Regions from separate parts of the Homo sapiens genome. Here region 2 is linked to region 1. Evidence: fine-mapped expression QTL. A gene starts in region 1. The other region holds a variant in brackets. All regions are shown on one strand. Distances are between the middles of the regions. Region 1 holds the start of CEP131 (centrosomal protein 131). Region 2 overlaps CEP131 (centrosomal protein 131).

Region 1 (5,251 bases):
TTAGAAAGGAAGAAATAAAACATACTATTCACAGAAAACAGGATTGTAGAAAATCCCGTGAAATCTACCAAAAACTTCCTAAGACTAAGAAGTGAGTTTAGCAAAGACACAGGCTCCAGGGTAAATATACTAACATCAGTTACACTTTTGTAATAGCAATAAACAATTGGAAATTAAACCATAAAAAACTACCATCTGTAATGGCACTCCAAAAATGAAATGATTAGGTATAAATTAGAAAGATATATGTAGGATGTGTATGCTGAAAACTTCAAAGTACTGATGAAAGAAATCAATGAAGATCTAAATAAGTGGAGAGATATACCATGTTCATAAATTCTGGTGTCAATTCTTCCAGGTTACAGGTCTACAGATTTAATGTAATCCCCATCAAAATCACAGCTGGATATTTTTTAAGATAGTGACAAGCTGAAACTCAAATTTATAGGAAAAGTCAAAAGAATTTGGATAGCCTAGGTAATTTGGAGAAAGAAGAACAAAGGACTCAAAACCTGATTTCAGGATTGACTCTAGGCCAGGTGCAGTGGCTCATGCCTGTAATCCCAGCACTTTGGGAGGTGAAGGTGGGAGAATTGCTTGAGCCTAGGAATTTGAGACTAGCCTGGGCAACATGTGAGACCCCATCTCTGCAACAACAACAACAACAAAAACACTAATCAAGACAATGTGGTAGGCCGGGCGCGGTGGCTCACGCCTGTAATCCCAGCACTTTGGGAGGCCAAGGCGGGCGGATCACGAGGTCAGGAGATCGAGACCATCCTGGCTAACACGGTGAAACCCCGTCTCTACTGAAAATACAAAAAAATTAGCCAGGCGTGGTGGCGGGCACCTGTAGTCCCAGCTACTCGGGAGGCTGAGGCAGAAGAATGGCGTGAACCCGGGAGGCGGAGCTTGCAGTGAGCTGAGATCGCGCCACTATGCTCCAGCCTGGGCAAAAATGCGAGACTCTGTTTCAAAAAAATAATAATAAATAAATAAATAAATAAGTAAACAAATAAAACCAATCCCTGACAATACCAAGAGCTGAGGAGGATGGGGAGCAACTGCAACACCTGTGGCACTGGTGGGAGCGTAGAGCTGTACAACTTCTTTGGAAAATAGCTTAGTAGGCCGATGTGGTGGCCCACGCCTGTAATCCCAGCACTTTGGGAGACCGAGGTGGGTGGATCACCTGAAGTCAGCAGTTCAAGACCAGCCTGGCCAATATGACAAAACCCTGTCTCTACTAAAAATACAAAAATTAGCCTGGCATGGTGACATGTGCCTGTAATACCAGCTACTCGGGAGGCTGAGGCAGGAGAATTGCTTGAGCCCAGGAAGTGGAGTTTGCAGTGAGCCAAGATCATGCCATTGCACTCCAGCCTGGGCGACAGAGGGAGACTCCATCTCGGAAAAAAAAGGAAAAAAAAGAAAAAGAAAATAGCTTGGCGGTTTCCTTTTTTTTTTCTTTTTCTTTTTTTTGAGATGGAGTCTTGCTCTGTCGCTCAGGCTGGAGTGCAGTGGTGATCTCCGCTCACCGCAATCTCTGCCTCCTGGGGTCAAGCGATTCTCCTGACTCAGCCTCCTGAGTAGCTGGGATTATAGGCAGACGCCACCAGGCACGGGTAATTTTTTTGTATTTTTACTAGAGACGGGGTTTTGCCATGTTGGCCAGGGTGATCTCGAACTCCTGACCTCAGGTGATCCGCCCACCTCAGTGTCCCAAAGTTCTGGAATTACAGGTGGGACCCACTGCGCCCGGCCGGCAGTTTCTTATAAACAATCATTTGATCCAGCAACCCCACTCCTGGGTATTTACACAAGAGAAATGAAAAGTTGTGTCCACACAGAAGCCGATGAGTGAATGTTTATGGCAGCGTCATTCATAATTGCCAAGCACCAGGAACAATCTCTGCGTCCTTCATTTGATGAATAAAACCATCAATAAATAAAACCATCTGAACCGGTGGTTCACACCGGTTACAGGATACCACTCAGCAATAAAGAGGAACCAGCATGAATCTCAAAATGCGAAGTGGTAGAAGCCAGACCCACAGGCGCGCTGCGCGACATCCCTTTTGTGTGACATTCTGGAAAAGGCTGCCTCTAGGGATGGAGAACAGAGAGAACTGAGCAGCCGCCACCAGCAGTCAGCAGGTACGGGATCCGGAGGGAGAATGTTCTGTAACTAAAGTTACACAACTCCACTGCACACCAAAAAATGTGGATTTTACTGAAACCAAACTTTTTATTTTACAGAGCACTGGACTTTTTAAAAAGCGGGGGCAGGGGAGACCAGTGTGCTGTGACTTTTAGGGGAAGGATGGCTTCCCTGGAGAGGACCTGGGCGGAATCCCCAGGGCTCCCGGAGAGAGGGGGAGTCACAGAGCGGCTACGCACGGGGCGCAGCGTTAAAACTTTGGAGAAGGAAAAAAAACAACAAAGCAGCGCGAAGGGAAGGAGGTCAGGGAGGTTAGCAAGGCGCCCACACGCCCTCGCAGTCGTACTGAGTAACGAGGGGAGTCGCGCACGTGGGTGGGGACAGAGCGGCCTAGGACACTGGGGGAGCCCCGGGCCGCGGGAGTGCGGCGGCCTGGGGGTGTCGGGGAGCCGAGCCGAGGCCGCGTGCTCCTCGCGCCCTCCCTGGTGTCTCCTCCCCAGGCCCTGCGTGCCCCGCCCACACCTGCCTTGCCCCGCCCACATCTGCCTCGCCCTACTCGCCCATCACACCCCCACCTCACGCCCCGCCCACAACCGCTGGGGCCCCGCCCCTGCCCGGCCAGCTCCTCCCGCCGCCCTCGGTCCCCCGCCCCCTATATGACCCGCCCCTTTCCAGCCGCGTCCAATCGGCCGCTCTCTGTAGTCGCGTCCCTCAGCCATCCGCCGCTCCTCCCACGCTTGAACTTCCCGAAGGACAGCCGAGCGGCCCAATGAGCTCCCGGGACGGCCTGAGCGGGAGCGTGAAGGGCCAATCCGGAGTCGGCGCGCGCAGGAAAGGCGGGCCGGCGTGACGGGCTGGGGAGGTGGTGCCAGGCTGGTTGCTAGCTGCCGCCGCTGCTCACCCCGGCCGTCCGGCCGCTTCATTGTCACCGGGCCTCGGGGCAGTGTTGGGGGTGGCGGGGCGCCAGGTCGCCGACCCGAGGTTTGGGCGCGACTGGTTCCGCATCCCCTCCCCGCCGGCCGAATCTGCAGGCCCCGCGCGCCAGGCAGGCTTCGCGGCTGCGCCCCCGGCCCGCGCAGGTGAGGGGGGCCCGGGCAAGGGAGGGGGTTGCAGGGCGCACGGAGGTTGGAGGGGTCCGGAGCCCGCGCAGGTGGGAGGCCCTGGTCCAGTGATGAAGTGATGGGGATCCGGGGCACGCACAGGTGAGTGGGGGGATCTGGTGCCCGCGCAATTGAAGGCGGGATCCGGGGGAAGTGAGGGGGATCCAGGGTGCGCACAGGTGAGGGAGGTCCGGGGCCCGCGCAGGTGAAGACAGGCTCGTGCCTGAGGGTGTGGGTCCCCACCTCCATCCCCTCCACCCTCTCCACCTCCCTCCACTCCCCTCCGGTCCCCAGGACAACATGGAGTCCAGTCCCGGCATCTCTGGCCCGGCTGCCTTAAGCCCTGGGGAAAATGGGGAGATGGGAGCTGCCCTGAGGACAAGTGGAGGGCTCTGCTCTGCGCGTGGGCTCTGGCCTCTCTGTCCAGGGTCAGGGTCAGGGTCAGGGTCAGCCCACCCTGGGAACCAGGTCCTGGCGCTGGTCATCAGTCCCCGCCCCTTCAGGTCCTGGGAGGGACACAGTTTTATCCAAGATGTAGTGGCCTCCCAGGCCTCCCTTCTTCTGGCTTGGAGGTTTCCATGGAGAGGCCCCGTTCGCCATCCCAGAGCCGCTTGCAAGTGTGGCTGGGAGAGCAGAGTCCTGGGCTCCAAGGGCTTGCATGGGTCCAGCCAGGGGTGGACAGTGCCCTGCAGGAGGAGGGTGTTAAGTTTCTTCCGCACAGCCGGAAGTGCATAACTGAGGACTGGGACCTGGTCAGTGGCAGGGTCAGCCTCTAGGGAGTAGGGGTATCCATCGCTCCGTGGAAGGGACCTTGGGGGACCTGCTGTGGGGTGCCGGGCTGAAGGAAGCCCAGGGTGACCTTGGGCGATAGGCTGGGTGCCTGCTGGCCTACTGGAGGCCACCGTGGCAGGGAGGTAATTCTCGAGGTTGGTCCCTGGCGCCAGCTTCTCCCGTTCATCTACGGGTTCAGCTGAGTGCCTTTCCCTGCAGGTGCTGGGGTTGCTCAGGAGCCACACAATTCATAAACCAACTGTGTGCGGCCACAGGAAGGGAGTCCGAGCCGGATGGGGAGTGAAGAGTGATGGGTGCTCAAGGAAGGCCTCTGAGTGCAGGGAGGGAGTGTCCTGAGACCTAGAGGCAGGGGACTGGCCGGGGCCAAGCTGGCTGAGTTTGAGGAGAACCAGGGAGGCTGTGTTGGCTAAAGCCACAACAAAGGGGCACAGCAGGGGAGCTGGCGAGGTCACAGAGAGTACAGGGCCAGATCTTGCAGGAGTTGGATGTGTAGACTTTATTCTCTGTGCCTAGGAAGCTGTTGCAGGGTTTTTGGCAGGGGCACATGCACGAGCTGAGACCCGTTCAGAAAGATCAGAAAGACTCGTTCAGAAAGAGGTGCCATGTGGGGACGGGCTGGGGGCCGGCAGGGTTTGCTCTGAGAAGTTCCAAAGTAAGGAAGCCAGCATCCCCAAGCTAATCCCCTCGATCGATCGTCAGAACCCCCGTCCCCTGCTGGAATAACACATTACCCAGGGAGTGTTTGCCCGGTGCAGCCTTGAGGCCTTGAGACCAGCATCTTGTCTGGACCTCACAAAACCACTCCCGCGTTTTTTTTTTTTTTTTTTTTTTGAGATGGAGTCTCGCTATGTTGCCCAGGCTGGAGTGCAGTGTCACGATCTTGGCTCACTGTAAACTCCGCCTACCAGGTTCAAGTAATTCCCCTGCTTCAGCCTCCCAAGTAGTTGGGATTACAGGCGCTCGCCACCACGCCCGGCTAATTTTTTGAAGTTTTTAGTAGAGGTGGGGTTTCACTGTGTTGCTTAGGCTGGTCTTGAACTCCTGAGCTCAGGCAATCTGCCTGCCTTGGTCTCCCAAAGTGCTGGGATTACAGGAGTGAGCCACTGTGCCCGGCCAACACGCAACCCCTTTTTAAAATGTGTATTTTTACTTAGGGGCCGGGTACGGTGGCTCATGCCTGTAATCCCAGCACTTTGGG
Region 2 (5,466 bases), 29 kb after region 1:
GCCGGGGCCCCTGGAGCTGGGGTCCGAGGTGAGCACGTCTGTGATGCGGCTGAAGCTGGAGGTGGAGGAGAAGAAGCAGGCCATGCTGCTGCTGCAGAGAGCGCTGGTAACGCTGCTGGCACTGCTAATCCCGGGCCCTGCTAGCCTCCTACCTGCTGAGGCCAGGCCCACCGGTCCTAGCGCTTCCCTCCTCTGCCCACACCCTGCAGGCGCAGCAGCGAGACCTCACGGCCCGGCGGGTCAAGGAGACAGAGAAGGCGCTGAGCCGGCAGCTGCAGCGGCAGAGGGAGCACTACGAGGCCACCATCCAGCGGCACTTGGCCTTCATTGACCAGGTGAGCGGCCCGGGGAGCGCAGAGGCCCGGACCCAGCGCGTGGCTCATGGAGACTTCCAGAGCCAGGGGCTTCCCACTGCCAGGGAGCTTCTTCCTCTGTTGGGTGTCACACGGGTGTCCGCTGGACGCATTCCAAGCCTTTCCCATGCCATTCCCAGCCATGCATGCCCTGGAGAGGGCACTCCTGTCTTTATCCAGAGCCGCCCCGTGTGAGTGTAGTGGGGTGTCCTGCCGGCCCCTCAGCTCAGTCGCAGCCCCGGTTGGCTCCTGTTCTGAAGAGAAGAGACCTAGAGTTGGTCTGGGGTGTGTGAGAATAGGGGCCTCCAGGGCTGCTTGATAGTTGTCACAGGTGTGTCCTGACCTGGGGTCTGGCCTGGGGCCGGCAGTGAGGCTGGTGTGGTCCTGACACCCTTTGGCAGACAGTGAGCCTCCTCCAGGGCTGGGTGATGGCCTCGGCAGAGCTACCCTCATCCCAGGAAGACCCTGACATCACTGCAGGGGGTGGGCTGGGGCTTCTCTGACATTCGCCGGGTCCCCCAGCTGAGGACAGGACGGCGGATGCAGGCCTGGGCCCGTGTTTGCACACGTGCCCCCCCACTGGCCCCAGGGTCCATCCACAAACCTAGGAGGGGCAGCCCCAGGGGAGGGCTGCTGTTAGCCTCCCTCGGAGGCTGGGAGGGTCTCCTCCATCAGGGGTCCTGCTGGGCTGGGGCCTTGGTGTAGCACCTCACCTCCGGTCCCCAACACAGCTGATTGAGGACAAGAAGGTCCTGAGTGAAAAGTGCGAGGCTGTGGTGGCCGAGCTGAAGCAGGAGGACCAGAGATGCACCGAGCGTGTGGCCCAGGCACAGGCGCAGCACGAGCTGGTGAGGCTTTGCTCCCTACTGCACGGCGTCCCAAGCCCGGCTCACAGGCCAGGCTCAGCTGGCACAGCCCCCAGAACAGGACCGGACTTGGAGTCCTCATTCCTGTCTCGGTGTGTCAGGGCCACAGCGGTGGGTGGGGCTGTCTGGGGGAGCACCGTGGCACCGAGCTGGTCCACTCCTGCCTCTCTAGCTGCCAGGCTCTGGGGCGGGGCCGTGGGCCTGCTGTCACAGATGTGGACGCACAGTCCCTGCCCGGCCACAGCACGGTAGCCGTGGACCCAGGAGCCTCTGCCTGGTCTGCCCCACTGCCAGGTCCTTGGGCCATGGGACCTGCTCTCTCTACTGACCAGGTGTCGGTGGAGCATTGACTCCCCGCCCCTTCCCGCTGTGTGAGCTCCCTGGGGGCCTCAGCCTCCCTGGCTATGCTTCCCACCAGCTTGGGCAGTGATGGTCCCGAGCCCAGGTTCTGGAGTGGGGCTTGGCACTGGCATTTTAAAATCCCTGCACGTGACTGTGGCTGACAGCCGGGGTTGAGGACTGCCAGTCCCATGGAAGAATGCAGGCTCTGGGGCCGTCCCGACAGGCAGCAGCACCCCTCTCTGGGGCAAGGCCTCTGCAGGCTGATGGCTGCCCTCCCATGTCTCAGGCCACCAAGGTGTGTGGCAGGGTGGGCCTGGGCCTCCAGCCTGGCCCCGGGCGCTGGGGAGGGCAGCAGTGGCTCTGTCTCGGGGCAGCACACCCAACCATGAGTGCCGGCCTTGTGCTGGTGGACCTGGAAGCCCGGCCCTGACTGTGCCCACAGGGTGGCAAAGGGACGGGGGTGTCCTTCGTGTCGTTTCCTCCTGCCCTGTTCTGCTCGTAGGAGATTAAAAAACTCAAAGAATTAATGAGCGCCACCGAGAAAGCCCGCCGGGAGAAGTGGATCAGTGAGAAAACCAAGAAGATCAAGGAGGTCACTGTCCGAGGTGGGCCCTCCCCTCCCATGAGCCGGCCAGGTGTGGGGTGGGTGCTGCGGCCAGGGCTTCTTTTGAGAGAGCCATAACTTCAGGCATTCATGTAGTCCGAGACCTTCCTGGGCAGAGGTGAACACTCATGCCCCAACCACCCCCGTCACGGCCTCCGCTGCGGCTTCTGCCGTGACCCGGGGGGCAGGTGGGCTCCACACAGGAGCCTGGCCCAGCCCCCAGCATC[T/C]AGGCAGTTGCCTGAAACGAGGGGGCTCAGTGCCTCACTTCCTCAGGGTTGGGCTAGGGGAGATTGGGAGTTTGTGGACGACTGTGGCACGTGGGCCCTGCCACGGGAAGCAGAGTGAGCCACAGGAGGAGGCAGGGGCAGGCAGGCGGATGGGGCAGGAGGCTGGTGGGTGTTGTGGTCTGAAGGGGCCTCGGACCCTTGGGTGATGTGCAGGGCTCCCCGAGGCCTGGTCCTCTCGCTCTGGACACCTGCCAGGGTGCCTGGGAGCCGTCAGTGGTAGCACCAGGAGTGTCAGGAGCCCTGAGCCCCACAGGCTGGGAGAGGCGCCGTGGCCCTGTGGGGGTCTCTTCCCCACCTCGTGGGCGTCAAGACTCAGCTGTGCTTCGGGTTGGATCCAAGGAGGCCCTGGGTGGGCGGGGTCCCCTCTGGGCCTGAGACAGGCTGGTCTTGTGCCAGGGTTGGACTTCCCGGGCCCACCCTAGCTGGACGTGGCCCTAGCTGGTGCCCCGCCCCCAGGTCTGGAGCCCGAGATCCAGAAGCTGATTGCAAGGCACAAGCAGGAAGTGCGGAGGCTCAAGAGCCTGCACGAGGCGGAGCTGCTGCAGTCGGATGAGCGGGCCTCGCAGCGCTGCCTGCGCCAGGCCGAGGAGCTGCGGGAGCAGCTGGAGCGGGAGAAGGAGGCGCTGGGCCAGCAGGAGCGCGAACGTGCTCGGCAGCGGTGGGTGGTGGCCCCAGGCCGGTGGGGCCAGGACCCTCAGGGCGGGGAGTCGGAATCCTCGAAGGCTGGAGTGGAGTTCCCATGTAGAGGTGGGCGAGGGTCTTAGTGCAGCATGCAGGGAGGACGCAGGGCCCTTGGCCCTGGAGTGGCCCTTGGGGGCCCAGCCTCAGCCGGGCCAGTGTCCTCGGGCTTGTGTCTGCAGTTCATGCCCGCCGAGGTCTGCAGGTTCTGCATGGGTGCACGGGTGTTTTCCCAGGGTCAGGGCTGGGAACCCCCACCAGACATCCACTCTTTCACAACTGGCCCCAGAGCAGCAACCCGTGGATAGGCGGCCTCGAGGCCCCTCCAGCTCTGACCTTGGGGCCCAGGGACGGTCTCTCTCATTCACTCCCTTGGCCTGGGGTCTGAGGGGTGACTGCTGCTCTTGCGTCCTGAGCCCTGGGGGCTGGGGACGTGCCCAGTGGTGGTCAGGATCTGCGGGCCACAGGGGGCAGTGGCAGCCCCTCCTGCACTGTCTGCGCCACCAGGACAGCCTGGAAGCCACCCTCTCCTATCCACCCTGTTGCCTGTCGTGGCTGGTCCTCCCCAGATGCAGCTTGGCTGGTCCCCCAGTCTCTCCTCGAAGGTGGGGTCAGGACGAGGCCCTGGCGCGAGCTTGCTCAGGTCACGGAGCCAGGCACCTGGCACCCTCAGGCCGGAGGCAGGGGAGGTGGATAAGGCCCCACGAGGCACCTGCCTCCCGCCCTCCATGCCCGTGGGGCAATGCTGAACAGGGTGAGGCCGGCACACGGGCTGAGGGAAAAGGGGGCCTGGACGCGGCTCCACAGCCACTTCCCAAAGTGCCACGAGGGCCTGGAGCTCAGGGAATTGCTGCGCTTGGCTGATGGGCAAGTTCCTCGTGGCCTTGCCTGCCCCCGGGCGGTGGCTTTGAGGGGCCTTGACTGCCGAGGGGGAGGGGCAGGGCCCCGGAGGGCTGCTCTCCAGCTGTGAGTCAGGCCTGTGGTCGGCCCGTGCCCCTGCGGTGGGTGGGTCCTGGGACCGCCCGTCCCGGCCCCCGAGAGCCAGTCCTGACCGTCCCGCAGGTTCCAGCAGCACCTGGAGCAGGAGCAGTGGGCGCTGCAGCAGCAACGGCAGCGGCTGTACAGTGAGGTGGCTGAGGAGAGGGAGCGGCTGGGCCAGCAGGCAGCCAGGTGCCGCCCGGGGGCACCACGCCCTCTCCCAGGGACCCCTCGCTGGCTGACCCCTCCCCCCCGCCCCCTCACCCGCTGACCTCTCCCATCCCTGACTCCTTACTCGATGACCCCTCACCTGCTGACTCCTCCCTGGCCGCAGGCAGCGGGCGGAGCTGGAAGAGCTGAGGCAGCAGCTGGAGGAGAGCAGCTCTGCACTGACCCGAGCCCTGAGGGCTGAGTTTGAGAAGGGCAGGGAGGAGCAGGAGCGCCGGCACCAGGTCTACCACCGGAGGGCTGTGCTGGGCCTGGCCAGGGGGCTGCACGGGGTGGGACTGACTGGCCTCTTATGTCCGCCCCCCAGATGGAGCTGAATACCCTGAAGCAGCAGCTGGAGCTGGAGAGGCAGGCGTGGGAGGCCGGCCGCACCAGGAAGGAGGTGGGGGCCTGGGCACCCAGGTGGGCAGGGGTTGGGGGCTGCCCTGCGTGGGCAGGAGTTGGGGGCTGCCCCAGGTGGGTTTTGCTGCTGCTGTGGCATCCTGGGGGCTCGTTTCTGGGAGTCACATCTGGCTGCTTGGGGTTGTTGTCTGAACTGACGCTGAGTGTGTTGCTTTCAGCCCATCTTTTGCGTGGGCTCTGGAAGGATCAAGGGTGCCTGGAGCGCATCCTCTGTGGTCCGAGAACAGGCGTTGCCCCTCTCGCTAGGGGCTGCTACACCCCTGCGCCCCACGACCAGCCCACTGACACTCAGATGTACCGAGAGGGACACGCACAACAGGGGCTCCCCCCTTAGCCTCTGGGGCCTTCTGTGGGGGGTGGACTCTGCCACGGTGACAGTCCCACACACATTCTCACCACCCATGCCCGCCGCGAGGCTACAGTCCAGGCTGACCGTGCCCGTCACCTGGTTTCACACCCTGGTGGGCTGGGATGTCACCGAGCAGCCAGGCAGGCTTTGGCAGTGGATGCCTCTGGGCCCAGTAGCATGCTCCCGACGTAGCCCTGTGGGGCCCAGGGCTGGACAGATGAAACTCTGGGAGTTTTCAGAGGCTTCCAGGAGGCTGCCAGCTTAGGCTCTGAATGCCTGGGCTTGGGGGCCCAGGCCCCGCCCTCAGCAACACGCAAGTCCAACTTTCCCATCCCATCTGGTAGCAGAAGGTGGCCTCAGGTTGTCATGGGCTGTGGGT

The links. PIP is the estimated chance that this variant, and not a neighbour inherited with it, causes the effect. A credible set is the group of variants that fine-mapping cannot tell apart.
Region 2: its variant is the best candidate, but not a certain one, in a credible set for the expression of CEP131 in esophagus mucosa (GTEx, PIP 0.67).

What each region holds. Positions count from the first base shown.
Region 1 is chr17:81,220,758-81,226,008 of GRCh38, reverse strand. It overlaps CEP131 (centrosomal protein 131), which reads left to right and starts at 3,044. Exons shown (of 26, transcript NM_014984.4): 1 at 3,044-3,240. RefSeq lists silencers at 2,452-2,821, 2,982-3,311 and enhancers at 2,673-3,342, 3,343-4,012, 4,013-4,683.
Region 2 is chr17:81,191,570-81,197,035 of GRCh38, reverse strand. CEP131 (centrosomal protein 131) reads left to right here. Exons shown (of 26, transcript NM_014984.4): 14 at 1-106; 15 at 210-335; 16 at 1,085-1,201; 17 at 2,064-2,166; 18 at 2,909-3,110; 19 at 4,193-4,300; 20 at 4,443-4,560; 21 at 4,644-4,718. Among named protein-coding and RNA genes, the nearest start is that of AATK, 28 kb to the right of the region's middle. RefSeq lists an enhancer at 3,400-4,117. The variant T/C (reference allele first, on the strand shown) is at 2,393.